Regions from separate parts of the Homo sapiens genome. Here region 1 is linked to region 2. The links come from fine-mapping of genetic effects on gene expression. A gene starts in region 2. The other region holds a variant in brackets. All regions are shown on one strand. Distances are between the middles of the regions. Region 1 holds the start of STAB1 (stabilin 1). Region 2 holds the start of NT5DC2 (5'-nucleotidase domain containing 2).

Region 1 (15,259 bases), 38 kb before region 2:
ACGGGTGGGTGACCCTCTGTGCTTTGTCCTATTTCGGGTGAAGGCCAGCATCACCAGTGGGCTTCCACCTTCCGTACGTGGGTGGGTTATCATAGACAGTTATCTCTGTGCTCAAGAGCCACTTCTTAACCGGGGTGGGAGGAAGCAGCTTCAGGAACTGCTGAGAGAGCAGAACTCACGCTCCAGGGCTCAGAGCAGGAGGTAGGGTGTGCGGCAAGCGCTGGCCCGGACAGAAGCAGAGTGGGCCCTGGTCTCGGGCAGGATGTTTCTGACTCACATTTCCTGAGGAGAGAAAGCTAAGCTCTTTGCCTAATGTCTCTGTCTCCCCTTCCAGAAAAATGCCTCAGCTCTTCCGGCCTGAAGGAATGGCCTCCTCCCGGGCCCCATGATTCTTTCCTGTGTGGGCCCTCCTGGCCCTGGCCTCTGGGCTGAGGCTTGCTAGGGACTCGGGGTGGCTCTAAGGGGCAGGGATAGGGCTGGGGAGCGCCGGCCTGTGGCCCTGACCAGCCCCTTCTCGTGCAGGTTCCACCCCGATGCAGGTGGTCACGTGCTTGACGCGGGACAGCTACCTGACGCACTGCTTCCTCCAGCACCTCATGGTCGTGCTGTCCTCTCTGGAACGCACGCCCTCGCCGGAGCCTGTTGACAAGGACTTCTACTCCGAGTTTGGGAACAAGACCACAGGTACCCCTGTCTAGCTCAGGCTGCAGACAGGCTGCCTGGACAGACGTCATGGGCCCCAGGGTGGCTCTCTGTGCCCCAGAACCCTCTCTGCCTCTATGTCTCTCTTTTCTCACTTAGCTGGCCAGGGTTTTATGTGGGGCTTTTCGATGGCAGAGTCTCCACTCCAGCAGTCCCTCAACCATCTGGCAGACACATCTCCAGTGCCTGCTTTGGGCTCCTGGCCTGTGGGCCCCACACTTGGAGCATCCTCTCCTGCCTGTCTCATGCCGGGGTCTCTCGGTTGGCTTGGGGCCCTTGGTGCTCCCAGCCCCACCAGGGGCCGGTTCCAGGCTATAGCCCAGGTGGCATCTCTCTGCAGGGAAGATGGAGAACTACGAGCTGATCCACTCTAGTCGCGTCAAGTTTACCTACCCCAGTGAGGAGGAGATTGGGGACCTGACGTTCACTGTGGCCCAAAAGATGGCTGAGCCAGAGAAGGCCCCAGCCCTCAGCATCCTGCTGTACGTGCAGGCCTTCCAGGTGGGCATGCCACCCCCTGGGTGCTGCAGGGGCCCCCTGCGCCCCAAGACACTCCTGCTCACCAGCTCCGAGATCTTCCTCCTGGATGAGGACTGTGTCCACTACCCACTGCCCGAGTTTGCCAAAGAGCCGCCGCAGAGAGACAGGTACCGGCTGGACGATGGCCGCCGCGTCCGGGACCTGGACCGAGTGCTCATGGGCTACCAGACCTACCCGCAGGCCCTCACCCTCGTCTTCGATGACGTGCAAGGTCATGACCTCATGGGCAGTGTCACCCTGGACCACTTTGGGGAGGTGCCAGGTGGCCCGGCTAGAGCCAGCCAGGGCCGTGAAGTCCAGTGGCAGGTGTTTGTCCCCAGTGCTGAGAGCAGAGAGAAGCTCATCTCGCTGTTGGCTCGCCAGTGGGAGGCCCTGTGTGGCCGTGAGCTGCCTGTCGAGCTCACCGGCTAGCCCAGGCCACAGCCAGCCTGTCGTGTCCAGCCTGACGCCTACTGGGGCAGGGCAGCAGGCTTTTGTGTTCTCTAAAAATGTTTTATCCTCCCTTTGGTACCTTAATTTGACTGTCCTCGCAGAGAATGTGAACATGTGTGTGTGTTGTGTTAATTCTTTCTCATGTTGGGAGTGAGAATGCCGGGCCCCTCAGGGCTGTCGGTGTGCTGTCAGCCTCCCACAGGTGGTACAGCCGTGCACACCAGTGTCGTGTCTGCTGTTGTGGGACCGTTGTTAACACGTGACACTGTGGGTCTGACTTTCTCTTCTACACGTCCTTTCCTGAAGTGTCGAGTCCAGTCCTTTGTTGCTGTTGCTGTTGCTGTTGCTGTTGCTGTTGCTGTTGGCATCTTGCTGCTAATCCTGAGGCTGGTAGCAGAATGCACATTGGAAGCTCCCACCCCATATTGTTCTTCAAAGTGGAGGTCTCCCCTGATCCAGACAAGTGGGAGAGCCCGTGGGGGCAGGGGACCTGGAGCTGCCAGCACCAAGCGTGATTCCTGCTGCCTGTATTCTCTATTCCAATAAAGCAGAGTTTGACACCGTCTGCATCTTCTAAACCAAGGGTCACTGGGATCCCAGCAGGGCTTCCGTCCAGGGCGTGGTCACATGGGGGAGGGAGGGTGCCCTGGAGACAGGAGGGTGAGGGGTTGGGGGAAAGGAAGGAGCAGCCCTCCAGGAGCCAGATGCTTCTTGGAACATGGGAGGCATGACAGGGCCATGGCCTCTCTGGACAGTGCCATGCTGGGCTGTGGCTAAACCATGAGCGCAGGGCAAACAAGAAACTCCTCAGGGCACCCCTGACACACCAGCCGCTGCCCCTCTGCCTGGGTGCGGGGCATGCCACCCTCTTCAGGCTGTCCTGCAGGTCTTATGTGTCAGTCACCCCTGGGCCCAACCCCACCTGTTTCACAACCCCTGTTGAGAGTGGGGGAGGGGCGAGGAGGACAGAGAGATCCCAGAGTCTGAGGTGGCTGGTGGGGGCCGGGGCATCTCACCAAGGTGGCCCTTGAATGGCAGCAGGGGAGGTCTGTGGGGAGGTGGACCCAGGTGGTGGACAGTGGAGGGAGGGGCACATACCCATCTGTGTCTGTCTTCATGTCCCTGAAACATGAGGCTCATGGGCCCCTCCCTGAGGGTTGCTTCAGGGAGCCTGCTGAGGTAGGACCTGGGATTTTGGTAGCCAACCCCATGCCACACTCTTCCCCAACCCCATTCCTGCTGCCAGAGCAGGGCCTATGAGCCCCACATAACTCATCCTGGCCCAGCCAGGAGCCTCAGTCCCCAGGACCTTGGGGCAGCCAGGCCAGGCAGGGCTGTGGAGAGGTGGGTGGCGTGGCCAGCCTGGGTCCCAGGCCTGCTTCTGTTCCCCCGTTTCCCTTGGTGCCAGCAGAGTGGGGGTCCTGCCTGGAGGACCCTTCACCCCCAGGAAGACTGTGGGTGTGGGGAATGTGGGGAGGGTTTCCCCTTGCAACCCCCATCCCAGCCAGATCTCAGGCCTGCCTGAAGGCCCCTCCAAACTGATGGGAGTGGAGGTGTGCTGGGGAGGAGAAACTTTCCCCAACCTGGCCTTTACCAAAGCATTTACAGATGGCCACCGGGCTCTGGCCCACTCCTGTCTCCCCAACTGTTACGCCGTCTGCAGTTGGGGGTAGTGACAACTGGAGGCAAGGCCCACCACGTGCAGCCCTGGCACGCAGAGGCCCTCAGCCTGGGCCCACTGCACCTCTTGGGGGTGCTGGCTGTGCAGGCAGTGGTGGCTTCAGACAGTAGCCCTGGGATTGGATATGAAAACTGATTACCTCAGACAAGCTACCCAGCCCCTCTGAGCCTCAGTTTCCCCACCAGTAACAGAGGGATCATAAAAGTAGCCACCTCCATTCATTTATTCCTTCTGCACACGTGTATTGAGCATCCACTGTGCGAATCAGCCAGACAGCGCCCCTACTCTTCCACAGCCAATGTTCCAGGGGAGACAAATGAAACAAGCCAATGTCAGCTGGTGGCTGGTGCTGCCAGGTGAACCAGGTGCAGGGCCACCTGCAGGCTGAGACCAGGGAGGCGCTCTGAAGTGGTGGCCCTTGACCTGAGACCACCTGTGAGAAGGAGCCAGAGTGTGACAATCTAGGGTAGCAGCACATGCCGGGAGAGCTCACTGAAGGAGCAGAGAGGCCTGCGCGGCTGGAGCAGACCTGTCTGGGGAGAGTTCAGAGAGACCAGCCAGCTGGAGAGGGGTTTGGAGGTGCTGCAGCAAGCTGGCTGAGCATGGGCTGCTGAGTGGAGGGCAGATAGGGAGGCAGGGAGGGTGGATGGGGGTTGGCGGGCAGGACCAGCGGCTCAGGAGTGGCTGGGGCTAGTGAGGGGATGTGGGTCTGGTGGGCTAGCAGGGTGCCTGTAGCGAGTCAGAGCCCCATGAGCGCCCTGGAGTTGGAAAGGTGGAGGCAGGAACAGACAGACCCATTCAGGGGCTGCCCTGCCTTCCGCCGACCAGCACCCCAGGAGCCTCTGAATGAAACACACTGGGCTCGCAGGCGGGGGACTCGTTCACGTGTGCCTTTGGATTTGCTTCAGAACCTCTGATAGAGCCCAGGTCCCGGGGCTCATGGTGGCCTGGACTTCCAGGTTGTGATGCCAGGAGGGTCCCAGCCGGGAAGCCCCGAGCAGGGCTCAGGCCGCCCATGGGGGGTCAGTGGCCAGCACCTTCCCTTCCGCCTGCAGGCTGCTGATATGCAGGAGGAAATCCTGGCGGGTTCCTGTGGGGGTGAGCTGGCGGGGCCTCCGGGCTGCTTTTAAGGCCACTGCCCGCCCCGTCCCGCCTGCCTGTGCTGTGCCTGCCTCCTAGAGCTCATTCCCTACGCCCCGACTCTGTCCTGGACAGCGTGCCCACCAGCCATGGCGGGGCCCCGGGGCCTCCTCCCACTCTGCCTCCTGGCCTTCTGCCTGGCAGGCTTCAGCTTCGTCAGGGGGCAGGTAAGTGTGAGCCAGTCGCAGGGGCACACGGCGTCTGGGCCCTGCCGGCCAGCGGTGGGAACAGGGAGGGACTGACATGGAGGGGCAGGGGCCTGGGGAGAAACCGCAGCTGGCGCCTGTCTGGCCTCTTAGCAGGCCTGGGGGCTGGCTATTGTGCCCACCTCCCCAGTCTGAGGTCTGCGTCCAGCCACCCAGGGTTCAGGGGTGTGTCAGCCCACCCTCCTCTGACTATGCGGGGCCGGGGCTCCCCAGCGTGCAGCTGAAGTGTACAGAGGCAGGCCTGTCCTGCCCTTCTGGCCCAGACGGAGGCCCAGGTCTTATGTGGCCCTCACCTGGGGGTTGAAGATGTGATCACCTCCAACCCCCGAGGACTACAGATTCACGTGGGGCAAGTGTGTGCACATGTGTGTGCCTGTGTCCAGCCCCAAGAGTACCGGGAAGCAGAATGAGTCACTCACCCTTAGTGTCCGGGGTTATGAGCAGCTGGCAAGGACACACTTCAGCCTCAGAGCTGCCACAGAGCAGCCACAGCCCCGGGCAGGTCCCCTTGAATCCTCACAGCCTCGGGGCAACTCCTCCTGTCCTCCTCGTGAGGAACCCGAAGCCCTAGGATGATGGGGACAGGCCATTCCCACTCTAAAGCCATGCTCCAAACCCCTGCCTGTGATGGCCATCCGTGTGTGCTGGCGAGCAGACAGGGTCCTGGTATGCAGCCACAGCCAGCCCCTCGGTCAGGTCCCTGTGACAGGCTCCTGGCTGCAGGTCTGCTCAGGCCCCATGGTAGGGGCCTCTGGGAGCTTCTGGAAGAGCCTCCCACCCTGGTGATGGGGGTAGTCTCTCTCCTGTGAGGCTGAGCGTGTCTGCCTCCTGGAGCAGCAACCACTATCCCCATGGCACAGATGGCCAGACTAAAGTCCAGAGCGGGGAGGACTTGCCCAGGATCCCACAGGCAGTCCAGCCAGGGGCCTAGGCCCCCTGCCACCATCAGGCGCTTTCTCTTGGATGCCTGTGGTCCCTCAGAGAGGCAGCAGGGAGAAGGGCCTCACCAGCTTCAGGACCAGGCCAGGGCTGGGGACAGGAAGATATGAGGCTGAGAAGGCGACAGTGATGGGGGAAGAGCCAAGGGTTCCAGGGCTGTGCTGAGAGCCCTGCAGGTAAGCTCCTGCCCTCCCCTTAACTCAGTTTCCCCCTGTGTACCATGCAAGGGAATTTCAAAGGCCTCCGCCACCTCCTCATGCTCTGGGCAGTGAGGACAGAGGTCAGTGAGGGGCCTCAGATTCGAGTTTTTTCCTTGTCAGAGACCTATGGCTCTGACCACTCCTTGTGGATGGGGCTGCAGCAGTGCTGGCCACTCTAACACAGCTACGTGGCCTCTATCCCAGCACCCTGCATAGCCGAGAGCCACTGTAAGTGCAGTTGGCCCTCTGTATCTGTGCACCCTGTACTTGGGTTCAACCAACCCTGGATTGAAAATATTCAGGAAATAAAATGGCATCTCTACTGAACATGTTCAGACTTTTTTTCTTTTGAGGTGGAGTCTCGCTCTGTAGCCCAGGCTGGAGGGCAGTGGCGTGATCTCGGCTCAGTGAAATCTCCACCTCCCAGGTTCAAGCGATTCTCCTGCCTCAGCCTCCCGAGAACTGGGATTACAGGCGCCCGCCACCACACCCAGCTAATTTTTGAATTTTTAGTTTCACCATGTTGACCAGGCTGGTCTGTAACTCCTGACCTCAGGTAATCCACCTGCCTCAGCCTCCCAAAGTGCTGGGATTACAGGTGTGAGCCACCGTGCCCAACCCCATGTTCAGACTTTTCTATGTACATAGCATTTACATTGTATTCGGTATTATAAGTCGTCTAAGGATGACTTAAGGTATACGGGAGGATGTGCATAGATTATATGTGAATTCGATGCCTTTTTTTTTTTTTTTTTTTTTTTGAGATGGTGTCTCTCTCTGTTGTCCGGGCTGCATTACAGTGGCGCTATCTCAGCTCACTGCAACCTCTGCCTCCCAGCTTCAAGGGATTCTCCTGACTCAGCCTCCCAAGTAGCTGGGACTACAGGCGCACACCACCACACTTGGCTAATTTTTGTGTTTTTATTAGAGACAGGGTTTCTCCATGTTAGCCAGCCTGGTCTCGAACTCCTGATGTCAGGTGATCTACCCTCTTCGGCCTCCCAAAGTGCTGGGATTACAGATGTGAGCCACCACTCCCAGCCTCGATTCCATTTTATACCAGGGACTTGAGCATCCACAGATTTTGGTATCTGAGGAGGGTCCTGGAACCAGTCCCCCATAGACACCAAGGAACAACTATATTAGGAGTGGAAGCTCTGAGGGGAAAGGATATCCCGGGTAACCTGTTCAGTAAGGGCAGCAACAGGACTGGAGTGAAGATGGGTTTGGGCAGCGAGGCAGGAAGGCTTTCCTGGAAGGCCCTTAGCACTTGCCCATTCAGCAGCTTTTCACCGAGGGCACGTGGCTAGGTGTGTGCAGTGGAGCCTGTGGCGGGAGAGGAGCACGGTCCAGAACCCAGCCCTGCACCCTCCCTGATCTGACCAAAGGTAGGGGGAAGCAGTTTGGGGTTCCTTCCTCTCTGACAGGGTTTAGATTCTGGGCTCTCAGCCTTAAAAAGTCCCCATGAACCAGGTCCCAGCTTGGGAGAATTTCATCCACCTTCTCACCAAAGACTTCACACTTCGTGTCTCCTCAACTTCCCCCAGCAGCAGCTCTGTGGGAAGCAGACATTGCAAAATCAGGTCTGCGGGGGGTGTGGGGTTG[G/C]GGGGGAGACAGCACCCGCTCTGGCTCAGTCCCGAGGTGCCCCCAGGAAGGAGGGAATCTGACTCAGCACTCAGGCCGTGATCCAGCCTCACTCCACCCAGCTGGACCAACGGCAAGATGTGGGCTCAGACCGCCGATGCTCCTTCCAGGCCATGGGGCGGAGGCAGGGCCCCTCGGCTGTGGTCTCGGAGAAGCACTGATGTGGCAGCAGGCTTACCATTCATCAGCATTTCACACACGTTTACAAACACCCAGGTCCTGTGAGTGAGTGTCCACACCAGGCCCCAAAGCTCCCGCTTCCTTCTGGGCCCTAACTCACCCATCGCTCCATCTAGCCCTGACTGTCTCAGAGTGCGACCAGCACAGTCTTACTCAGCCTGAGCCCTTATCCAGAGCTGACCACCATTCCTCCAAGAGCTGGTCCACAGCCAGAATGGTGACCGCGCTGGCAGCTTTGCCCAGCTGGCCAGGTGGCTTTGAGGGGAGCCCACCTCCTGCCAAGCCTCTACCCTGAGCCAGCAGCTGCTCAGCCCTCAAGTTACCCAATTTCCTAGTCTCTCCCTGGCTCAGCAAAGGCGAGCCTCAGGATGGGGAACGAGACCACAACATCCCAGCTCCGCCGTTCAACACAGGCTGCTCTGAGCAACTTCCCTGTTTGCAGACCGCAGAGGCATGAGCGGAAAAGGCCAAATCACGGTAGCACAGAGGCTCTGGGGCCCTGGTATTTGCCATAAGAAAGTGTCAGGGGCACCATTTCTCCTTTTCTCTTGCTTTGAGAAGCCACACATCTGTAAATTATTCCAGGAAAGGGATGTTCTGGGGTCACTCCCTTTGGACCACAGTGTGGTCAGCATTTTTCAAGATGAGAACATCTCCACTTCTCTGGGCCATGCCCAAAGCCTCCCAAACACCTCCCCTCCAACCTATGCCCCTTCCCTATGCCCCTTCCTCCCACTAGAACTGGGAGTTTAGCTTCACGCCTCCTGGTTCAGTGCTGAAGGTTGCTGGGACTTTGTTGCCGTAGAAGGCTGGTGGACTTCCAGGAGCTATGGCAGGCCAGTGAATGGGACTCCAGGCCTGGGGCTTTTGTCAGCATCCTTGTGCCCATGCCGTGGTGGCAGGCTGGACTCCTCACATCTTCCACGCCCCACCCAGTTGCTGAGACCTTCTCCCAATTCATCTCACCACCCCAAGCCCTCTCAAATATCTCCCAATCCATTTCCACTGTCCCTGCCTTGGCCCAGGCCACCTTCAGGTAATGATGGCCTCTTTCCCACCACACCTGCCCCTGCGACTGTATTCTCCATGCAGCAGCCAGAGGGCCAATTTAAAACAAACTGGCCGGCCGGGCGCGGTGGCTCACGCCTGTAATCCCAGCACTTTGGGAGGCCGAGGCGGGCGGATCACGAGGTCAGGAGATCGAGACCAACCCCGCTAAAACGGTGAAACCCCGTCTCTACTAAAAATACAAAAAATTAGCCGGGCGTAGTGGCGGGCGCCTGTAGTCCCAGCTACTTGGGAGGCTGAGGCAGGAGAATGGCGTGAACCCGGGAGGCGGAGCTTGCAGTGAGCCGAGATCCCGCCACTGCACTCCAGCCTGGGCGACAGAGCGAGACTCCATCTCAAAAAAAAAAAAAAAAAAAAAAAAACTGGCCAGGCACAGTGGCACATGCCTGTAGTCCCAGCTACTCGGGAGGCTGAGGCAGGAGGATCGCCTGAGCCCAGGAGTTCAAGATTACAGTGAGCTAGGGTCACACCACTGCACTCCAGCCAGGGCGACACAGCGAGACCCTTTCTCAAAGACAAAAAACCATAAACTGAGTCATGGGGCTGCCCTGGACTCTGCCTCACCCAGGTTTACGGAGCTCCTGCACCCCAGCTGCCAGCCCCTCTCCAGCCTCCCCTCGGGCCACTGCCTGCCTTGTCACACATTTGTTTTTACTTCTTTCCACTCCCGGCCTTTGCTTCTGCTGTCCCCTAGGCCAGGAGCACTGTCCTTGACCAATTCTCATGCATCCTTCAGGTCCCAAGTCAATGACCACCTCCCTCAGGAAACCACCTGGGGCCCCAGCCAGGATGCCCTGGGTTTCCTCAGAGGCTGGCATGGCCCGTTGTCTCCTGTGACTGCCCAGCCCAAACACTTGCAGACCAGAGTCCCTGCACACAGCTGCTCACGTGAGCCCAGCCTCTCAGGGCCAGGGCCCTTAGTCTCTGATTCCTGGGCAGCGGAGAAAGCCCTTGCGCTTGGTTAGAGAGGGTCATTTGGTAGCAACGTGGGAAAATGCTCAGAGCAGAGTGGTGGCTGGAGGTCCAGCCCCACGGTGCATGGCTGGAGCCGGCATCGTGCCTGTGCCCATGAGTTGAGGATGGAGTCGCCGTGTCCTCCCAAGACAGCATCAGCTCTGTCATTTATTGTTTCTTTATCTTTAAACAAAAGGCAAAAGTGAGCACTAGGCTGGGAATCTGGGTTTAGTCCCTGGTTCACACCCTGTTCATGGATGAGATTGGGTAGCGGCCATGTCCTGGGCTTCAGTTTTCTCACCTGAAATGGGCTTGGGGGAGCAACGTGGCTAGATTCTCTAGTGTCAGAGGGTGTGGACTCAGAGCCTTCTGGGCCGGGCACATAAGGACTCGATGTGACATTAACAACTTGTAACAGACAGGTTTCACAGGGCCTTCCCCATCTGCACTGCATTCCCACTGAGCGCCCCCAGGGCATTCTGTGGACCCCCAAAGAACTCAGCTCTGTGCCCAGAACCCTCTGCTTACTCTGACCCCTGAGCAGATGGGAAGTGGCAGCTGGAGGGGTGTGAGCCCTTGCAGCACTGAGGACAGGGTCAGGACTGGGCGTGGGGTCCAGGCCCCTGACCACACCCTGCCTGTGGCCCCAGGTGCTGTTCAAAGGCTGTGATGTGAAAACCACGTTTGTCACTCATGTACCCTGCACCTCGTGCGCGGCCATCAAGAAGCAGACGTGTCCCTCAGGCTGGCTGCGGGAGCTCCCGGATCAGATAACCCAGGACTGCCGGTGCGGGCCACCCCTGTCCTTGCCTGTGTCCAGGAGCATCCTGTGGGGTGGCAGGGACTCGGGGAGCCTGACAGGCCCACAAAATGAGGAGAAGCACTCACTTATCCATGCCCCTGTGGCCCCACCTGGGTGGTGGAGATAGGCGGGGAGGAAGGGGTAAAGGCGAGGGGCAGGAGGGGTTTATGGGGCACCTGCTATGTGCTAGGCCCTGTGCTCAGCTCTGGGCCAGGCAGAGCAGGGAGGTGGGTGGGAGCCCCGGAAGCCAATGTGGGGAGGCTGGGTGGGGGCTGTGCAAGGGAGCCTTTTCCATCACCCTGCCCACCCTCTGCCCCCAGCTACGAAGTACAGCTGGGGGGCTCTATGGTGTCCATGAGCGGCTGCAGACGGAAGTGCCGGAAGCAAGTGGTGCAGAAGGCCTGCTGCCCTGGCTACTGGGGTTCCCGGTGCCATGGTATGGGAGAAAGGGGGACCCCGCCTTGCGCCTCCCACCCAGCCCCAGCTCTGGGCAAGCCCTCTGCAGGAGCCACCTGCATTCCCCTTCAACTTGTTTGTTTAATTAATACTCACCGAGCGCCTCCAAGGCTCGGCCCCCTTGCTCTTGCTTCCTTGGGGGAGGGGCCGAGTCTGGGGTTGGCCAGAGCTGCTGGGGTCAGGGTAAGCGGAGGGTTCTGGGCACAGAGCTGAGTACTGTGGGGGTCCACAGAATGCCCTGGGGGCGCTGAGACCCCATGCAATGGCCACGGGACCTGCTTGGATGGCATGGACAGGAATGGGACCTGTGTGTGCCAGGTAAGGGCTGGGCAAGGTGGGGTGGAGGCTCAGAGGGGCCACGCTGACTTGGTGCATCCACCACCAGGAAAACTTCCGCGGCTCAGCCTGCCAGGAGTGCCAAGACCCCAACCGGTTCGGGCCTGACTGCCAATCGGGTGAGTGCTTAAAAGGCAAGAGGGCACGGCCAGCGTCCACCTGGGGGCCCACGCAGATGCAGTACCTACAACCAGCTCCCACCTGTCCCTTCAGCCTCTGTCCCAGCCCCTCAGATTTGCACATCCCTTTCAGGAACATGTGCTTTGTTTTATCACACCTCCAGCCCTTTGCACATGCTACTCCCCTGAGAGGCCTTCTCCAGGAAGCCCTCTGTGAGCCCCAGGCCGGGCCAGTGCCTTCTGTGGTCTCCCACCACCCCTGTGGTCCCGCATCACAGCTCTGTACTCTTAAGGTTGTACCTGCCCGAGCTGAGTTCTAAAAATACAGAGAGCAGGGACCCGATGTCCCAGTGTGTGCCTGGGAGAGGCTGGGGCCCCATCTGTCTCTGTGTGTCCCTCCCAGTGTGCAGCTGTGTGCACGGAGTGTGCAACCATGGGCCACGTGGGGATGGAAGCTGCCTGTGCTTTGCTGGATACACTGGCCCCCACTGTGATCAAGGTGAGCAGCGCCACTGGGATAGCCTAGGGCAGCAGGTCCCTGTGGCCAGAGCAAAAGAGGCCGACTGGGTGAGGATGGGGCCTGAGCCTCAGCAGGACCTCCGCCTGGAGCCTAGTTGGGGAAGGGGTGTCATCTGAGACCTCCACTGTCCAGAGGCCCAGCAAGGTCAGGGCCCTGCTCCAAGTCACACAGAACAGGCAAGGCCCCTTTGCCCCTGTGTTCCTCCCCAGCCTGGGCTTGGGCTCATCAGTGCTCTCTCCACTCTGCGCAGAGCTGCCCGTCTGCCAGGAGCTGCGCTGTCCCCAGAACACCCAGTGCTCCGCAGAGGCTCCCAGCTGCAGGTGCCTGCCCGGCTACACACAGCAGGGCAGTGAATGCCGAGGTGAGCCTGGACTCAGAGGCCAGGGACTTCAGCTCAGGGCGGGCGGGGGCTGGGAGAGCATCCTTTAACCCAGCAAGTGCAATGTAATTCACAAGGAGGGAGAGCCATTCCTAAGGGGAGCCTATCCTCAAGGCCTAGGTCAACCTGCTGGCCCCGGCCTTCCTGGTGAAAGCTGTGGCGGAGACAGGGCTCCTGGGTGCTTGGCTCACTTGGGCTCTCTCTCTGCCCTGGCAGCCCCCAACCCCTGCTGGCCATCACCCTGCTCACTGCTGGCCCAGTGCTCGGTGAGCCCCAAGGGGCAGGCTCAGTGTCACTGCCCTGAGAACTACCATGGCGATGGGATGGTGTGTCTGCCCAAGGACCCATGCACTGACAACCTTGGTGGCTGCCCCAGCAACTCTACTTTGTGTGTGTACCAGAAGCCGGGCCAGGTGAGCCAGGGTCCCAGGCCGGAACTGTCCCCACAGTGCACCCAAACACTGGCTATGGGACCCTGGGCAAGTCACAGGCCTTCTGGTAGCCTCAGTTTCCCCACTTGTAAAGTGGGGAGAGGATAAGGGTCCTCTTCAGGGAGGGGCTGAGCAGGGCTCTATGGGTAGGGCAGACACCAGTGGTTCTTGGGGTTGGACGTGGTGTTCCCCTCCTGCCCTGTCGGGGGCCAGGCCTTCTGCACCTGCCGGCCAGGCCTGGTCAGCATCAACAGCAACGCTTCTGCGGGCTGCTTCGCCTTCTGCTCCCCCTTCTCCTGCGACCGGTCTGCCACTTGCCAGGTGACCGCTGATGGGAAGACCAGGTGAGCACAGGTGCCTGGGAGCAGAGACAGTGGGTTGGGCAAGCGTGCCCTCTGCGGGAAGGCGTGGGGGGTGCGGTGGGGGGGGCCTCAGCCTCCGCCCTGACTGGCTCTCCCTGGGAGCCCAGCTGTGTGTGCAGGGAAAGCGAGGTGGGGGATGGGCGTGCCTGCTACGGACACCTGCTCCACGAGGTGCAGAAGGCCACGCAGACAGGCCGGGTGTTCCTGCAGCTGAGGGTCGCCGTGGCCATGATGGGTGCGTGACCCCACTGCTTGCCCACGACCCGACCCCTCACCCCCAGCACAGTTGGCAGGGAGGGAGGAGCTGCCTCTGCAGATTCCAGTTTCTCTGCCCAGGGCTGTGGGAACAAACAGGTGGCTGTGGGGGGTGCATGCAGGGGGTGGGAGCTGCTCTCCAACCTCAAGGCCCCCATCTACCCTAAATCTAGGGAGAATACCCCCACCCCAACTCCCCCACACCAGGTCTGATGCCCGAACATCTTCTGAGATCCCCAGAGTCTCCCCAGCTCCCTTCTGATGCTCCCTCACCCTGCCCCCCAGACCAGGGCTGCCGGGAAATCCTTACCACAGCGGGCCCTTTCACCGTGCTGGTGCCATCCGTCTCCTCCTTCTCCTCCAGGACCATGAATGTAAGCCCCTCCCCATGGTGGAGCTGGCCACTGGCCCTCACCTCCTCCCCTGGATGCATCCCCAGTCTTCAGGGCCACCTGGAAGGCATCAGGGCCTGGGATGCATCCTGTCCCCTCCATTGCTGGGTAGAGGTGGTGTGAAGAGGACTGGCCCCCCGGCTCACTTTGCTCCCCGCCTTGCGTCTGCAGGCATCCCTTGCCCAGCAGCTCTGTAGACAGCACATCATCGCAGGGCAGCACATCCTGGAGGACACAAGGACCCAACAAACACGAAGGTGGTGGACGCTGGCCGGGCAGGAGATCACCGTCACCTTTAACCAATTCACGGTGAGGGAGGAGCCTCAGCCTGGGGACAAGAGGAGTCACAGCCTGGCAAGGGTGTGCAGGTGGGAGGGAGCCTCCGGACAGGGGGCTGGCATATGGGATCTGGCCAGACCTCTTGTGTCTCACCAGAAATACTCCTACAAGTACAAAGACCAGCCCCAGCAGACGTTCAACATCTACAAGGCCAACAACATAGCAGCTAATGGCGTCTTCCACGTGGTCACTGGCCTGCGGTGGCAGGCCCCCTCTGGGACCCCTGGGGATCCCAAGGTGAGCCAGCATCCTCCCCTCCCCTCCCCTGTGCTGCTGGGTAATCTCAGACCCCTGCAGAGAGCAGTGAGTGGGCAGGAGCCATTCTACTCAGGGCTGGAGCGCAGCTTCTCCCCGCTGGGCTGAAGCAGCCTCACCCCTTCCCTGGGGCCCTCACACTCATCCCTCCTTACAGAGAACTATCGGACAGATCCTCGCCTCTACCGAGGCCTTCAGCCGCTTTGAAACCATCCTGGAGGTAAGCTCGGGGGAGGGGTCCTAGCCCATGTGGGCTTCTGGGCTTCTGAGCCAGGACTCATTATCCCAGATTCTGCCCCACAGTGACCTGGGGTTCTGAAGTAGCATGGCCTCTGCCCATGCCCCCGTCCTCAAGCCTGAGGTTCTGTGGTAGCATGGACCCATTGCCCATGTCTCCCCCTTACTCAGTGGGAGTTTCCTGCAGGCCAAAGGTGGCAGGGCCCAGGCAGGACTCAGAGGTGGAGGCTGGCCATGCAACCCCCTGAGCCTCCCTTGCACCACCACAGAACTGTGGGCTGCCCTCCATCCTGGACGGACCTGGGCCCTTCACAGTCTTTGCCCCAAGCAATGAGGCTGTGGACAGCTTGCGTGACGGCCGCCTGATCTACCTCTTCACAGCGGTAAGCTCAGCGGGAGAAGGGGCTGCGGGTATGGGGGCACCAGGACCTCCACGCTCCCCCACAGTTCCTCCAGGAGCCAAACCCTCTCTCTCCCCTGCCAGGGTCTCTCTAAACTGCAGGAGTTGGTGCGGTACCACATCTACAACCACGGCCAGGTGCGAGGTCTTTTTCTGGGGGGCGGCCAGCTTGTACCCGGTGGGCCTGCCTGCAGGTTCTGGACTTCCCCAAGGCCCCATCTCTTCTCCATCTCCCTTCCCTTCTCATCTGTTCTGCTATAGCACAGAGCCTAGGGACCAAGGGGGTGGCT
Region 2 (16,060 bases):
CTCTAATGGGGCAGATGAGTCTGTGAGGGTCAGTCCTGCCACCTGCTCAGGCCGGCCACGGCAGGGCTTCTGTCCACACTTACCCATGTCCTGCTCGATCCACTGGTACATGAGGCCCTTCACATGCACGTCTCGGATGGCGTCCTGGGGGCAGTGGAGGACAATGAGGGTACAGCAGGGCCCAGGTGGGGCTGTCCCACTGTGGCTGGACTTAGTCTTTCCTGCCATCCGAGGGCAGGCCCAGCATCCTCACCGTCACGTCCTTGTAGAGATGTGCTTGGTCAAACTCCAGGCTGTGGCCCAGAAAGTAGTCCACCACACAGGACAGCAGAGCCATCTCCGGTAGCGAGAAGATGTCCATGAACTGCTTAATGGAGGGACCCTGGGGAGGGGGCCATTGTCTCAGACACCCTTTGGGACCCCAACCCCTTCAGTGCTGGAGACGAGGGCCCCAAATCTGCCTTGGGACATGGGCACATGTCCATGGGGCAGGCTGGCTGCTGGGGTATGGAGTACCTTGCCATAGAAGCCACTCATCTGGTATAGTGGGATGTGCTGGGTACCCCCATACAGCTCAATCACCTCCTCGTCTGGCACAGGCTGGAGGCCCCTGAGCAGGCCCAAGATACCATCAGTCCAAGGTAGTCCTGAGCCAGAACAGCAGTGTAGGGTGGGGCGGGGGTGGGGTTGGGGCAGAGCCGACTGACCTGTAGGCTGTCCCCAGCTGCACGTAGTGGAAGGCGTCAATCTTCATCAGAAGGCTCTGGGGGCGCCAGGGAGGCAGGACGGATGGTGAGGAGGCAGTTTCACCGTGGCCCCAAGCCAGCCTCTTTCAGCCCATGCCAGAACCCCAGCTGGATGGGACGGAGGGGTAATGACCATACCAAGAGGAGGCCAAGGAGGGAGCCCCTATACAGGTCCAGCCACTCACCTTCTGAATGTCATAGTGGAGGCCACGGATGGCAAAGCTGGGGTTGTAGTCATACTTCCGAATCCCTTCTGGGTACTGCCGGGGGAAAGGGGCCAGGCCTAAGCCAATAGCCCTGCCAGACCTGCTGGCTGGGTGGCCACCCCAGGGGGTCAATCCAGCCACCTGCCCAGGGCAGCTGCCAGGCAAGAGGGCCAGGGGAGCCCCACGACTCAGCCCTGAGCTTAGGCCAAGGTGGGTCTGGCCAGCCTCCAAGCCCTGGGTTTGTTGGTGGCAAGGACCCCCGTCTCACCTTGTAGTGCTCGATCAGGATGTCACGGGCGGTACTGAAGATCTCGGGGTGCAGTGCGTCTGCATACTGGGCCAGGGTGTAGTCGTAGTCAAAGCCGTAGACCTCAACGTCACGCAGGCTGATCTCGTTGTTGGCGTAGATGGCTGCTGGGTTCAGGAGACTGCAGACCTCGGGGGGCAGGAGGTCTAGAGGAAGGAGATGCAGGGAGGCAGTGATGGGGATGATGATCCCTGCAGCAGCTATGGCTCCTGAGCACTCTGTGGGGACCTAGCCCTGTGAGCCTCAGAAACGCCCCACAATGGCACCTCTTATTCCAGTGCTGGAGATGGTCAAACAGGCCCAGAGAGAAGTCACTTGCCCAGGGTCACGCAGTTAGGGTAAGGCAGAGCCCCTGGCTGGAGCTCCTCCTCATGGTTACACCTGCCTACATTACACTATCTCCTATAGCCCACCAGGTATACTGAGCCCGTGACTACTCCAGGCCCTCACCACTAAGCCCCATCAGACACAAGGCCATGCTAGAACCCTGGCAGCAGTCACTCAACTCCTCACCGCCTAGCCCCAGAACAGCTGCTTTTGGGATGCTCTACAAAGCAAAGCCTCCCACTTGCTCAAAACCCGTGCAGGAACACCACTGTCTGGCCCCCCACAATTCAGCGCCTCCTCTGCTCCTCTCAGCTGCCCTGCCCTGCCCCCTGGCCTCATCTCTCAGCCTCCCTGGGATTATGTGTGAGGATACCATGTGGGCACTGAGGACTCCAACCCAGAGGGGCTGGCTCTGTATGGCCAGACTAGGGGGTTGAGGCCATGGATGCTGACTTTTCTACCTTGCCCAGAGCTGGGACTGGGGCTCAGGAACATTAGTGGGAGGGGGAGCCCCTCTGCCGATCGGGCTGCCAGCTCTGTGCACTTCCCACAGCCCAGGGAGAGTGAGGCCCCTCTAATCAGATTTCAGCTGCCCGCAAGCCCATATAATGACATTTGCTGGCTCTAGCCAGGGAACATTGCTAATTACGACAGTCAGGACGTGATGTCAGGTTCTGGGCCATTATCCAGGTTGCTCCTTCTGGGGATGTGGTCGTGGCCACCCCAAGTCCCTGGCTGCTCCCAGGAGGCTGCAGTTGGCTTTGAGGCCCACAGCAGGGTGCTGAGCAGAGCACTGTGTGGCATGGGCTCTGGGGTCCCAAGGAGGCAGATGGGGCTGAGAGGCCCCATGTTACCTGCCCTGGTTTCCCTATGTGTACAATGGAGAAAGTGGAAGGGAAAGGAAAGGGAAGGAGATGTGCTAGGAAGGCCACATGCAATGAGGTCAGCCAGACAAGACCAGGCCCTCCCTCTCATGGCTATGACTTCAGGAATGTCACCTCACCTCTTGGGCCTGTTTCCTAGTTTCTAAAAGGGTACAAAAAATTGTACCAAGTGGGGCATGGTGGCACACACCTACAGTCCCTGCTACTCAGGAGGCTGAGGCGAGAGGATTGCTTGAAACCCAGTAGTTCAAGACTGGTCTAAGCCATATAGCGATACCCTGTCTCTGTGAAAACATTTTTAAAAAGAAAAAAAAAATTGTACCAACCTACAGAATTACTAAGACTGTCATATGGAAGGTGCTGCTCTGTGCAGCAATCTCACTCTGCACCTGCACATATGCAGGATTAAATGGGTGATATGTTTCCTGAGCCTATGAGCATCCTGTCCCCAATTTCCCAGTGTCCCTCCAGAAGCAGGGGCTGCAGGGAGAAGGGAGCAGGCAGGACTAGATGTACAGGGTACATCTAGTACCCCTGCCTTGCAGGGGCCCCAGCTCTAAGACTCCAGGGGATCCCTGTCTCAGCCACAACCCCAGTGCCGATGACAAAGCAGGAGCTGCCAGGCCAGAGGGCCAGGGAAGCCCCACAGTGTGCCTGGCAGCTGCTGCACTCAAGAGGCAGACATCTCGCTGATGTGCTCCGTGCCCAGAGCACTTGCCTCAGAGGCACTCTGGGGACACAGGGCTCCATTCCCACCCCTTTCCTTTGGAGCCAAGTTCAGGGTGTGGGTGGGGGATCAGGTGTGGCTGGTTCCCCAGGCCAGCACAGAGCGGCTGCTCCGAAGATCTGTGGGTGTAGACAGGAGTCTTCACTTGGATGCAAGTGAGACAGTTGACTGCAACGCTCTAGGGAGCTGCTTCTGAGCCACCCCTCAAGGCCCAGGGTTCTGGTGTGTCACTAGGACCCTGGGCCTTGCCCTTCCCATGGCCCTGAGTTCCCGGATACCAACTGTGACTGTGACTCTTGGTGCAGAAGACCTGGGAGGGTCTGCTCGGCAGTGCAGCCCCTTGCTGGCACAGAGTCCTGGTTAGGTCCAGGCCTTCACCTCTGCCCCTAAGGATGTTCCCAGGGGCCCAGGGGCAGACAGTCCTCCCAGGAACAAAGCAGGATGTGGAAACAGCCACAGGGCCTGGTGGCCTGGCCTGATTTCTAGACTAGAAGAACCTTGGCTCTGGGGCGACAGAAGCCTGTTCCCTTCCATAGGTGGTGTGGGTGGGGGGTGGGGGTGGGGCAGCTGAGGGTGTGTCCCACTCAGCATGTCCAGCAATTGCCCTCCTTTCTCCTCAGCCCTAGCTCCCACACCTGCCCATGGTGCCAGGTCCCAGGGCCAACTGCTCCCTAGCAGCCGTGACACTTGTGGATGCCTTAGAGGCTTGTCTTGTTCAATCCTCACTCCCATCCTGTGAGGCAGTCCCACTTATTCCCCCATCGTCCGGAGGAAGAAACTGGGGCTCAGGGAGGTGAAGTCACTTGCTCCAAACCACCCAGTAACAGGCACCGGGGTTGAGATCACCATTCAAGTCACCCCACCTGCATTAATCACTCTGCCTCTCAGCCTAGCCTCCCAATGTCACCACACTGAGGCCAGGTGGGTGGGGGCTGGGGGACTGAGGGACCTGTTGCACTGCTCTCAGCCCGTGGGCATTAGCCCAAAGCGGACCTCGGCGCCCAGAGGTGTGAAGCTGGCTCCTGCTGGTGCTCACCATGGGATCTTGGTGGGAATGACTTTGCTCCTTGTATGACAAGAGGAGCTTAGAGGGCTGTGAGGCTCCAAAGATGCAGGCAGGCCCAGGAGGACAATGTCCAGTAGATCCCCGTAGTCCTCCCTGAAACCTCCAAGGCAGGCTTCTCAGGATACTCTGAGGGTCTTCTCCGGGCCCAGAGCAAAGACTTCTTAAATAACGCTGGGCCGCCCCTCCACAGACACAAACTCAACCTGGGACCTCGAGGGTGGACAGATGCCCAAGGCTTCAAAATGACCATTCCTCAGGGGCCTTTACCATCCTGCCTTTACTGGTCAAGAAGTGATTCTCCGCCACCCCACAAAGCCGGAGTGAAAACCCCTGTCTAGCCAGTTAGAATCTTCCAGACAGGGCTACTTTGTTTTATCAGACAACAAAAGCCACGTCACCCCTGGGGGTTCCTCCGGAAGCTCTCCTGCCCTGCTTGGCCTGGTTCCAGTCATCACCCAACCCTGGGACAGAGAGGCCCCAGGACTGCGTTTCATGCTTGAGAGAGGGTGAGACTTGCTGGGGGACCACCCAACTGGTCAGTGATAGGGTCACGACCCAAACCATATCTGTCTGCTGCAGAAGCAGGGCCCCACTAGACCCACGGAGACAAGCAGGCAGATGTCCAGCACTCTCAGCTCTGGGGCCTCACTAGTGCGCCCCAGCCGGCCCCCTCCAAGAAGGGGCCTCAGCCTCCTCACGCCATTTCTCAGAGGGAGAGAGCAGGGACAGGGAGGTTAAGTGCCCTTTGCAGCCCTAGTCTGGGCTCCAGGGGGCGGGGGTGACTTGGCTTCTCCCAGCCTTCGCTGCCCGGGCTGAGAGGGGGCCGGACCTCCAGGGCGACATCGAGGTGTGTCTGGGAAGTCCAACCGGTGTCCCCTTTGGTCCGGCCGTCCCTAGGAGCCCGTTCCGCCCGGCGCCGCTCGCTGGCTTTGTCCACAGCACTCTCCCGCCCCAACTAAGGGTTGGCCGAGAACAAGGGGTTGGGGGCGTTTCCACCGCGGCTTCACGGCAGGCGGGACCCCGAAGGAAGTCGGCGGGGGCCCAGCACTCCGGCAGCCGCTCGAGGAGCCCCGAGCTCCTGCAGACCGAGCCGGGGAACAAACCTCCCGCCCGCCCCCGGGCGTCGGGGCGCCCCAGAGGCCCCCGGGATGAACGGCCGGAGCTTCTCGCGAAAAGCCGCCCGGCCCTTGCGCTCCGGGGCCCTGGCGAGCCCCACTGGGTGTTTCCCCGGAGGAGCGGCACCCTGGGGCTCGGTCCGTCCATCAGTCCACGCGGAAGACACCCCGGCGCACGTCCCGCCCCGGCTCACCCACCGTGCACCAGTCTCCGCATGTCCTGGTAGCGAGCCCATAGGTGCGCGCTGAGGTCGGCGCCGCTGGTGGGTGCCTGGGCGGGCGCGGAGCGCGGGACGCCGGGGCAGTGGGCGCCGGGACCCGGGGGGCCGCACCCAGGGCAGGAGGGCGAGGACGAGGCGGCTCGCGGCCCGCCGTGGCCTCCGCACAGCAGCCAGCGCCGAGCGGCCGCCCGCAGCCCCGCACCCGCCATGCCCACCGCGCGCCGCCCGCCGCCCGCGCTGCCCTCGGCCAGCCCGCCGCCCGCCGCCCGCCGCCCTCCGACTGCGCGCCCGCCACGGTGGCCTCGTGCTCCTCACGGCGGCCGGCCAATGGGTGCGGCGCGCGGAGCCCGGCCTGCCAATGGGCGCGCCCCTCGGCCCGGGGGGCGGGAGGCCCCGGACCCGGCGGGGCGGGGCGGGGCGGGGAGGGCTCCCCAGCCCCCTCCCCCAGCCAGTCTCCGGCGCGGTCCGGGAGGACTCTGCGCCCCCCTTCGGCCGTCACGCCGGCGATGGCGGCGCCTTTCCCTGGCCCCAGCCCTGGAAGTCAGCGGGCCTAAGAGCGGCCGTCCCTGAGAGGCTCCGGACGGCCGAGGCGCCGAGAGGAGACAGCCGGAGCGCGACGGGTACCCCCCGGGCCCCCGGGTCCTCTGCCGCCCTCTCCGCTCCCGGGTCCGCCCGCCCTACCCTGCGCCTCTGGATGCTTCTGACCCCAGATCCTCCGCTCCTCCCCCTAGTCCTGGTGCTCTCCTTTCCCGGGGTCCTGGTCCCCGGTCTCTGGGCTCGGACTGACTGCCCACTGACCAGAGCCCGGGCCAGTCCACTCACTGGTCTAACAAATAAAGAGCCCTTCCCGCGCTTCCCGGTGCCAGGCCCACGCTGGGGGAGGCCGAGGGGCCTGCAGGGCAGCCGACGTCCGCTAACCAGGTGACTGGGCCGTGCGCTGCAGGGTTGTGGGCCACGGTCACTGCGCCCGCTTGGTTCGGACCTCGGCAACTGGCCGCACTGACCCGTCAACTCCCGGTTTCCCGGCGCACGCCCCTCGTGAGATGCTGTGGTCTTTTCTAGCAACGTCGACAGGCTTTCCAACAAAATTCCTCTTTCCTGCGCAGAACCGCTCTCCACTCGCATTTCTTCTGCTCAGATCCGTATTCCGAGCCCGCACGCATACCAGGCTGTGCTCAGGGTCCGGAGGAGGCCGACCCAGTAGCCGTGGGCCCTGTCGGAGGGGAGCCAGCTGGGCGCGCGTTGTTTTCTGAGGTGGCCGCGCTGTCTTTCAGGGTGTGTGTACATTCGAAACTCCACTGAACCTTGATTGAAGACCTACAGTGTGGCAGTCCATGGCCTGGGGACTGGTAAGGATTGAGGCCGTAGGATGGGCTCGAGTGTGGCGGTGTCCCCAGGGCCCCAGTGAGCAAGTGGGTGTGCTGGGAACCTGGCCACAAGTGAACCTCCTCCAGGCGAGGGGATGCCCTGCAGCATCCAGCCGTCAAAACCTCCTGTAGAAACGGGAGCGAGCATCAAGCCTGTGTGTGTGCATGCTTGGGCGGAGTCTACCCGGAGGAGAAAGAGGCTTCCGGGCTGGCCCTCCAAAGCCGGTTGTACAGGCGGCAGCTCAGGCTGCTCACTGCGGGCCCTATGACCCTTTCTGGGGCCCTGCTTGCTCTCTCCAGTCTGCTTTTGTATATTTTGTGTCCATATCACCAAATCGTCTCATTGGTTCTAAGCTTTCATTTACCTTCCTTAGATTGTCTAATAGTTGTCTCCTTTCTCAAAGCTGTTCCTGCAGTTTTTACTTTAGTCCTAGGTAATGGGGTGACAGCCCCTTTCAGTTATCTTCAGCAAGCACAGCAGCATGAGAAGACGCAATTACAAGTGAAGTCTCTTAAGTCAGAGCCCTGCTTCTACCTGGCATAGTCTCTTAAACTGTCAGTTAAGAGACTACATATAAACAATACACGTTCAGACTCGGCGCGGTGGCTCACGCCTGTAATCACAGCACTTTGGGAGGCCAAGGCAGGAGGATCTCTTGAGCCCAGGAGTTTGAGACTAGCCTGGCCAATATAGTGGGACCCCCATCTCTACAAAAAATTAAAAAATTAGCCGGGCGTGGTGGTGCACGCCTGTAGTGGTGGGAGGATGGCTTGAGCCGGGGAGGAGGGGGTTGCAGTGAGCCGAGATTGCGCCACTGCACTTCAGCCTGGATGACAGAGCGAGGTCCTGTCTCAAGAAACAAACAAAAACCATGTTTGGGAATACATGTGAAGAGCGAGGGCTCTGCCAATCATTATCATCATAATGAATATTCTAACTAATATTAATCAGTTACTATGCTCCAGGGTTGTGTTCAGTGCATCATTCCTATTACCGCACTAAATTATCACAGCGTCAGAACAAGGCCTCCGTTTTACGGCTTAGGGAATTGAGGCACAGATGGGCTAAGGGAGCACCTGTAGAGCAGGGATGTGGTTTGGTAACAGAGTGCATGCTCTTTATACTGCTCTTCTGCGATTATTGTGAATAAAGCGCCTACAAGTGCCTGTGGAACTGTAAGTGCCCCATACAAGATAGCTTTTATTAATTTTAGGGTTCTCACGGGGCGCTTACTTAGATTTTTGCTGTGATAATTGATAAAGTTCAGCTTTCAACACTCCATATCAAATTCTGTTACTTTAGAAGTCTAGGCACCAATCACGTCTCCGAAATAAACGCAAGGCATTGCATAATTGCATTTTGGAATGTGGTGCTGTACATAGTCCATCAGAGAGGGTCATCACTTCTATCTGGGTATTAGGAATAAAAATGGCGGTGGCAGAGTAGGGGGCGCGGCTGCCAACTGCGAGCTCAGACCTGCACTGGGGAGGCAGGGGGCGGGGCCGGGCCGGCGCCACGTGGGCTGTCCTTCCCTTTTGGGCCGTCCCACCTCCAGAGCTGAGGCGCCTGCGCCAGCTCCTTCGAGGCCCTGCTCGGCTTCAGGGAGCACGCGCGCCCTGCCGTGCTCTGATTGGCGGAGCTGCACGCCCCCGCTGCAGTCTGATTGGCGGATCCGCCTCGCTTTAGAAGGTCGGCGCCCAGTTCCGGCACTCGTGCGCCTACCAGACAGTGGCGGAGGACGGCGCTCGCTAGTCTCCCAGGTCGCGGTACACGGCGAGAACGGGCGGGGCGGTCTCGGCTGCGTCCGGGCGATCCAGTGCTTAGTTCCGTCATATCCCTCTCCACGACCTCGGTCGAGCATGTTCACCAGGGCCCAGGTGAGACGGATTCTGCAGCGGGTGCCCGGGAAGCAGCGATTTGGCATCTACCGGTTCCTGCCCTTCTTTTTTGTCCTGGGAGGAACGATGGAGTGGATCATGATTAAAGTGCGCGTGGGCCAGGAGACCTTCTGTAAGTGAGGGGGTAGCAGTCTCTGTTTCCTTTCAGGAAGGCACGAGGCGGTAGGGATCCGTTTTTCTGGGGAGTATTCTCAGATTGCAGACCGCGCATTCCACTCAGAGCGCTGGGCGAGTGCAGTTCCATTCGCTTGGCAGTCAGGGCGGCCTGGCTCTCCTGTAGGCCGGGCACATTGGCGTCCAGCCTTGTGACCTTCCCTGCACTTACAGGCGAGATCACGTGCTTCTTCCAGCCCTCTCATGCCTGCCCTTCACCCCTGCCGGTGACATCGTTTGGGCTTAAGGAACAGACTTGCTCACAACAATCGTAGAAGGGGGTGGATATGAGGGGTCAGGGAAACTCCTGCTAACTAGCCATTTCTCTTTGGATTCTTCTGTCCAAACTCTGGAGGGAGCTGATCTGCCTGGCTTTGCTAATTACCACTACCTTTACAGGACAGTCATTGGCACCAGGTCTTTGGTCTGGGTCCAGATGATCAGCACTGTAAAGATAGTGGTAACGCCTGGCACTGCATTACTGAGCATTAACTCTGGACAGGCCAGTTCCTTTCAGGAGGACTTCCCCAACCCCTCGGCCCTTTCTGCTTTGCCCCTCTCCTGAAACGCTATCACTTGTGACTTGCCAACCCACATTTTAAAGAATTGTTACATTAGTGATTCCTAAAGATCCTTAGTCCTTCTGTTCATCCATTCATTGATACTTAATGAGCATTCTTGAGGGGCTATAATGAACAAGGCAGAGGTGTCCCTTACCCCAGAAGAGCTCTAATGGGAAAGAAGATGATAAAGACAATTAGCATACAAAGTGATCAGTGCTGTGAGAAGGAAGTGGGAGGAACATAGGACTCTCGGGTGGGCGCCTCAACTGGACTAGATGGTGCAGGGAAGGCTTCCGGAAGCAGCTACCAAGTAAAGTAGGACCTGAAGACTGAGTAGGTGTCAGTCAGATGAGGGGAAGGTGTGTGGAATTGAAAGCATCTCCATGGCAGTGGTAGGAGCACTTGTGTGAGAGTATGCTGTGTGTTTGAGGGATTGAAGCAGATCAACAAAGTGGGGATGGCTAGAAGGGTGCCTGGGCAGGGTGGCAAAGGGACTGGAGAACCAAGAATGGATCCCAAGGATTGAGTCATTTTAGGGAGAGGCTTTAACATGTGGAGAATGGCTCCTTGTGGACAGATTGGTAGGAACAGTTACGCTGTATGGCTGTCCAGAGTTGAGACAGTGGCCTGGTCTAGGTTGGGGCAGAAAGGATACCAAGAAGGGATGGAAGTAAAAGACAGCCCAGAGGTAGTACTGACAGGGCATGGTGATTAAGTGGACTCAGGAGATGAGGAGTGGAGGCTTCTGGTGGGACACCTGGGGCAGGGGGTAGTGCATTTCCTGAAGGTGCCGAACACAGGCAGGGCCATCCTGGGCACCATCTGGGACGTGACGAGGTAGATATGGTTATACAGAGCTGAAGCTCAGGAGGCAAATCTGGGCCAGAAATTGGGATTTGTGAACCATTCAGAAGCAAATTATGATGGAAGTCAAATCCCAACATTTTAATTTAATTTATTTATTTTTTGAGACTGAGTTTCGCTCTTGTTGCCCAGGCTGGAGTGCAGTGGTGCGATCTTGGCTCACCGCAACCTCTGCCTCCCAAGTTCAAGTGATTCTCCTGCCTCAGCCTCTGGAGTAGCTGGGATTACAGGCATGCACCACCACGCCCGGCTAATTTTGTATTTTTAGTAGACATGGGGTGTCTCCATGTTGGTCAGGCTGGTCTAGAACTCCTGACCTCAGGTGATCTGCCCACCTTGGCCTCCCAAAGTGCTGGGATTACAGGCGTGAGCCACTGCGCCTGGCCCAAATCCCAACATTTTAAGGGTAACTGAGAATGGCCAGAAAGGCAAGGAGGGAAACCAGGAGGATTTGTTATCACAGAAGACAGGAGGTTAAATACATCTGGCTCTGTGAAGGGGAGGTAACCCCCCTTCCTCTAGGAGAGACTGCAGGATATGCAAATAATGATCTAGAAGGAGAGGGTGGAGAGAGGCTGGAGATACTGGACCCTTGAGAGGGTGGGACCAGAGCTGGGTGACAGGAGTAAGCCCTTGGAAGTTAGCTGGAAGAGTTCCTTATGATGACTTTCCTCTGTGAAGGAAGAGAGGAAATGGCCATTTGGGGGTGGGTGAAAAAGAGTCAGGATGATGGCTGAGGAAACAGGATTGTCAGACACCTCAGTGGACCCAGTTAGAGGCATCAGTTGGCCCCTCAGGACACAGCAAGCAGGGTGAAGCATGGGGAAGGGAGGAAGTTGGATTAATCTGTGGTTGGGGTTTTGAGGGTGTGTCAGGAAGTTAAGATATTGACAAGAGTATGAAGGAATTTTAGCTGATTTGCCAGGAGAGAGAACAAGAAGCGGCTGAGCGGGTAAGACGGGGCCAAGGACCTGGGGAAGAAACGTGAGGTCCAAGGACAGGAGGGCTGGAAAGGTAACGGGGGTTGTGGTATGAACAGAAATCCTTCAGAGGAGCCCTGCAAGTGACTGGAAGATGTTGAAGGTGAAGGGTACTGGAGCTTCATCCCCATGGGTAATGGTGGTATCTGGGGAGAAGGCACAGGACAGGGTCAAGGAACCTGAGCCAGAGGCCAGCACTTTTGGTGACTGAAGGGGCATGATGGAGAGCAGGTGCCAAAGAAAGATGGTGGCAGACAAATGGCATGAGCCATGAAGGAAGAAGATTTTTTTTTTTTTTTTTTGAGACAGAGTCTTGGTCTGTCACCCAGGCTGGAGTGTGGTGGCACGATCTTGGCTCACTGCAGCCTCTGCCTCCTGGGTTCAAGCGACTCTCCTGCCTAAGCCTCCTGAGTAGCTGGGACTACAGGTGCCTGCCACCACACCCGGTTAATTTTTGTATTTTTAGTAGTGACGGGGTTTCACCATACTGGCCAGGCTGGTCTCAAACTCCTGACCTTGTGATCCGCCTGCCTCGGCCTCCCAAAGTGCTGGGATTACAGGCGTGAGCCACTGTGCCCGGCCTGGAAAGAAGATTCTTTACATGAAGGTGGCGAGTCAAAGGTCTGGCAAAGCAGCAGCTGGAACAAGGAAACTGATCTCCTCTCCCCACCTGAAGGTTTCTGGATATGGGAGAGGGAGCATCAGAGAGCCAAGAGGCAAGAAGTGCCTTTGAGGAGCCAGGTTTTAGTTAAGAAGGATGACTTCAGAGCACAGAATAGAAATTATGGGGGAGAAGGAAGTGAGGGACATCTTAAAACACTAAGAGATGTGCTAAGACATGATTCTATCTTTCAAGACACTGACTTTTACCCTATTTAAGTCTAGAACTCCATTATCATAGTCCTCATCTAACTCAAGTTTTGTTTTAAGTTTATTTTGGCATTGAGTTAAATATTAATGCCAAGATTCAGAAGTAGGTGACAGACCTAGACTATTGGTTAAATTATTCAGATTGTTTTAATTTTAAATATGTTTCTTAAACATCTGAGCAACTTTTTGTTTGATACAGATGATGTCTACCGTAGAAAAGCCTCAGAAAGACAGTATCAGAGAAGGCTGGAAGATGAATGAGACTGAACTTCAGCAGTCAATAAAGTCAATATGAATTTTTACTATTGGTTTCAGTGCCTTTTAAAATATACTTTTCAGATCTCTTGTTCTGACACAGCTTGTCCTTTATCAGCTGCACAATATTCCAATAACTGTTTTTGCAAAGAATTTTTATAGTTCTGTCTCTGCTTGAGTACTTCCCAAGTCACTGCTGGACAGCACTTGTGGGAAAATTATTTCCTCCTAAAACACTCACTCGATGAATCTAGTCCATGAAATATTTCTTAAACAATTCAAGGATCAATCAGGATGCTTTTCAGTGAAGCCCGAATTGTTTTCGGCAATCTTTGTTTTTAGGCAACTAATTATAACCTTATTTACTTTTTTGCAGAATTCAAATTAAATTATGGACACATTCTCTATTGCCAGATCATTTAAACCAGGATAATTATGCAGGTTGTATTTCTGCCAGCTACTAGACTATAAACTTTTTGCTAGGGTGGTGGAAATTCTTGATTGACTACGCATTTCTCATGCTAGTGTTCTTGTGAACAGAAATATGCTCCTCCCTTGCTTGGCTCCCCTAAACTGCAAGGGCTGGATCTTCATGAGGACTGTGGGCAACAGGTTTCACACTACTCTAGGATGAAGATGTTGCTGTTCGATTCAGCTGCTAGAAACAGTTGCTCCTTCCATGAGAAAGTGAACCTACACAGTATAAAGCATCCCAGACTTGAGCTAAATCAGAGGCTCAGTCTATTGAGTGATTTGGCAATCTGACCCAGTGTAAGTTTGGATCAGCCTGGTAGAAAAAGCAGATACCTTTCCATGCTTGCATAGCCACATCTAACATCGTTTCAAGCAAAAAAAAATCTACATACTAAAGACTAAGTTTCAGAATAGTTTCTAACTATTGCATGAGAATAAAGCTGATGCTTAAGGCCATAGGGTATCCTCAAGTTAATGATCTCTGCCACAAACATGTCTCCTAATTTTTTCTAGATTTTTCTTCTAATTTTAGTCCACTTATCTTAGAACCAATTCAGTAAAGAACCATTAACTAACTACTCCCATCTCCTTAAAGCACTACCTACACTACAGTGCAGCAAGCCCAGAGTCACAGCTGGGAGATGGCTTGAATGTGAAAGGCCAGTAATGACCTCTGCCATCAGGGAGAGGACGGTGGTTCATCGTATTCTCATGCCCAGTTGTGTCATCTAGGATTCCTGGTAAACCTAACCTGATAAACCATTTTTAGTGACTTGACTGCTGTATAAAAACTATAGTATGATTCTCAATTATATGGCCATACTCCATGTTTGCCCTAACCCACCTTGTTTTAGGAGTTTAGTATTTGATACATATAGAAAATACGTCATACCTTTTACAAAGAATAATAGTAAACACTAATAAAACCATTGGCTAACTTTTGTGTCTGCTGTGGGTTCATTCCCTGGCCCATCCCCCTGCTTCCACCCCACAGAGAACCATTAGACTGAATTTTGTGTTGGCCTTCTCTAGAGCTTTCCTCTCCATTTCTTTTTCTTCTTTCCATTAGAATGTTAATTTATTTAAGGACAACAGACTTTGAAAATGATGGCCAGGGTTGGTGGCTCAAGCCTGTAATCCAAGCACTTTGGGAGGCTCAGGCAGGAGGATTGCTTGAGGCAAGGAGTTCAAGGCCAGCCTGGGCAACATACACTCCGTCTCTATTAAAAGAAAAAAGAAGGCTGGGTGCAGTGGCTCACACCTGTACTTTCAGCACTTTGGGTGGCCGAGGCAGGTGGATCACCTGAAGTCAGGAGTTCGAGACCAGCCTGACCAACACGGAAAAAGCCCGTCTCTACTAAAAATATAAAATTAGCTGGGTGTATGGCTGGGCATGGTGGCTTACGCCTGTAATCCCAGCACTTTGGGAGGCTGAGGTGGGCAAATCACGAGGTCAGGAGATCGAGACTATCCTGGCTAATACGATGAAACCCCGTCTCTACTAAAAATACAAAAAATTAGCCAGGCGTGGTGGCGGGCACCTGTGGTCCCAGCTACTCGGGAGGCTGAGGCAGGAGAATGGCGTGAACCCGGGAGGCAGAGCTTGCAGAGAGCCGAGATCGCGCCACTGCACGCCAGCCTGGGCGACAAAGCGAGACTCCGTCTCAAAAAAAAAAAAAAAAAAAAAAAAATTAGCCGGGTGTGGTGGCAGGCACCTATAATCCCAGCTACTCAGGAGGCTGAAGCAGGAGAATCGCTTGAACCTGGGAGGCGGAGGTTGCGGTGAGCCGAGATCGCGCCATTGCACTCCAGCCTGGGCAACAAGAGTGAAACTCCGTCTCAAAAAAAAAAAAAAAAGATTGGACAACTTCTGACTTTTAGGCAGGTAGACTACCAAAGCAATTATTGTATTCAATGGAAGATAGGTTTTCAGAGCACATTAGTTTGGATGCTGTGAGTGAGAACTCATTTGTTAGGGTGCAAGCTTTTTTTGAGATGAGTTTCACTGTCACCCAGGCTGGAGTGCAGTGGCATGATTATAGTTCACTGCAGCCTTGAACTCTTGGGCTCAAGCGATCCTCCTGCCTCAGCCTCCCAGGTAGCTGGGACTAGCTAGCTACCATGCTTGGCTAATTTTTAAATTTTTTGTAGACACAGGGTCTTGCTGTGTTGACCAGGCTGGTCTCAAAATCCTGGGCTCAAGCAGTGCTCCCACCTCAGCCTCCCAAAGTGTTGGGATTACAGGCATGAGCTACTGTGCCCAGCTAAGGTATATAAGCTTTTAATTTTTCCTCAAAAGTATTTTTAACTCTCCTACTAGGAATGACTCTATCCTACTTATCAGACACTGAACTATTTAAGGGCGCCAGGAGTAGTGGCTCATGTCTATAATCCCAGCACTTTGGGAGGCTGAGGTAGGAGGATTACTTGAGCCCAGGAGTTCAAGACTAGCCTGGGCAACGTGGTGAAACCCTGTCTCTACAAAAAGTACAAAAAATTAGCCAGGCCTGGTGGTGTGCACCTGTAGTCCCAGCTATTTGGGAGGCTGAGGTGGGAGAATCACCTGAGCCAGATCAAGACTGCAGTAAGTATGATCCCAGCACTGCACTCTAACCTGGGCAATGGAGTGAGACCCTGTCTCCAAAAAAAAAAAAAAAAAAAGCCGTGAAAAGAATTGCAGTACCACCAACTGTAAACTACAGGGCATAAATTTTAATAAATTTCAAGAACTATACTTATTGCAGAATGCTGAAAACCTGATTAGCATTTATTACTAGAACTCTACCTCCACTGTGGTGTTGGGGAAAGAATATGGGCTTTGGAGTGTCACTTTATTATCTGAATTTATAGAGAAAGTACCTAATAATAGTACAACAGTATTACAGCCCCCCCCAAAAAAAGAAAGAAAAAAAGTAGTGAATAAATGAGTTATTTTTGTTCATCTAGCAGTTCTATTTTGGAAGTCTTACCTACATCCCTGATGTGATATTTAATCTCCATTTTGTGTGTGTGTTTAAATTTTTCACACTGAATTAA

What was found. PIP is the estimated chance that this variant, and not a neighbour inherited with it, causes the effect.
Region 1: its variant is fine-mapped to the expression of NT5DC2 in prefrontal cortex (BrainSeq, PIP 0.95).

Annotation. Positions count from the first base shown.
Region 1 is chr3:52,490,830-52,506,088 of GRCh38, forward strand. STAB1 (stabilin 1) reads left to right here and starts at 4,509. Exons shown (of 69, transcript NM_015136.3): 1 at 4,509-4,662; 2 at 10,337-10,473; 3 at 10,809-10,924; 4 at 11,177-11,262; 5 at 11,330-11,399; 6 at 11,803-11,898; 7 at 12,170-12,280; 8 at 12,515-12,711; 9 at 12,943-13,073; 10 at 13,199-13,326; 11 at 13,632-13,720; 12 at 13,910-14,047; 13 at 14,174-14,314; 14 at 14,490-14,552; 2 more. The coding sequence starts at 4,585. NISCH (nischarin) reads left to right here. Exons shown (of 21, transcript NM_007184.4): 19 at 1-4; 20 at 523-684; 21 at 1,043-2,239. The coding sequence ends at 1,653. RefSeq lists enhancers at 13,164-13,669, 13,670-14,175. The variant G/C (reference allele first, on the strand shown) is at 7,446.
Region 2 is chr3:52,527,930-52,543,989 of GRCh38, forward strand. NT5DC2 (5'-nucleotidase domain containing 2) reads right to left here and starts at 5,928. Exons shown (of 14, transcript NM_001134231.2): 1 at 5,577-5,928; 2 at 1,221-1,405; 3 at 932-1,006; 4 at 708-763; 5 at 517-610; 6 at 254-382; 7 at 84-144; 8 at 1-2. The coding sequence starts at 5,808. It overlaps UQCC5 (ubiquinol-cytochrome c reductase complex assembly factor 5), which reads left to right and starts at 8,676. Exons shown (of 2, transcript NM_001124767.2): 1 at 8,676-8,977; 2 at 12,495-13,961. The coding sequence starts at 8,827. The coding sequence ends at 12,556. RefSeq lists enhancers at 5,038-5,167, 8,995-9,528 and silencers at 5,298-5,387, 5,418-5,767, 5,828-6,327, 8,362-8,661.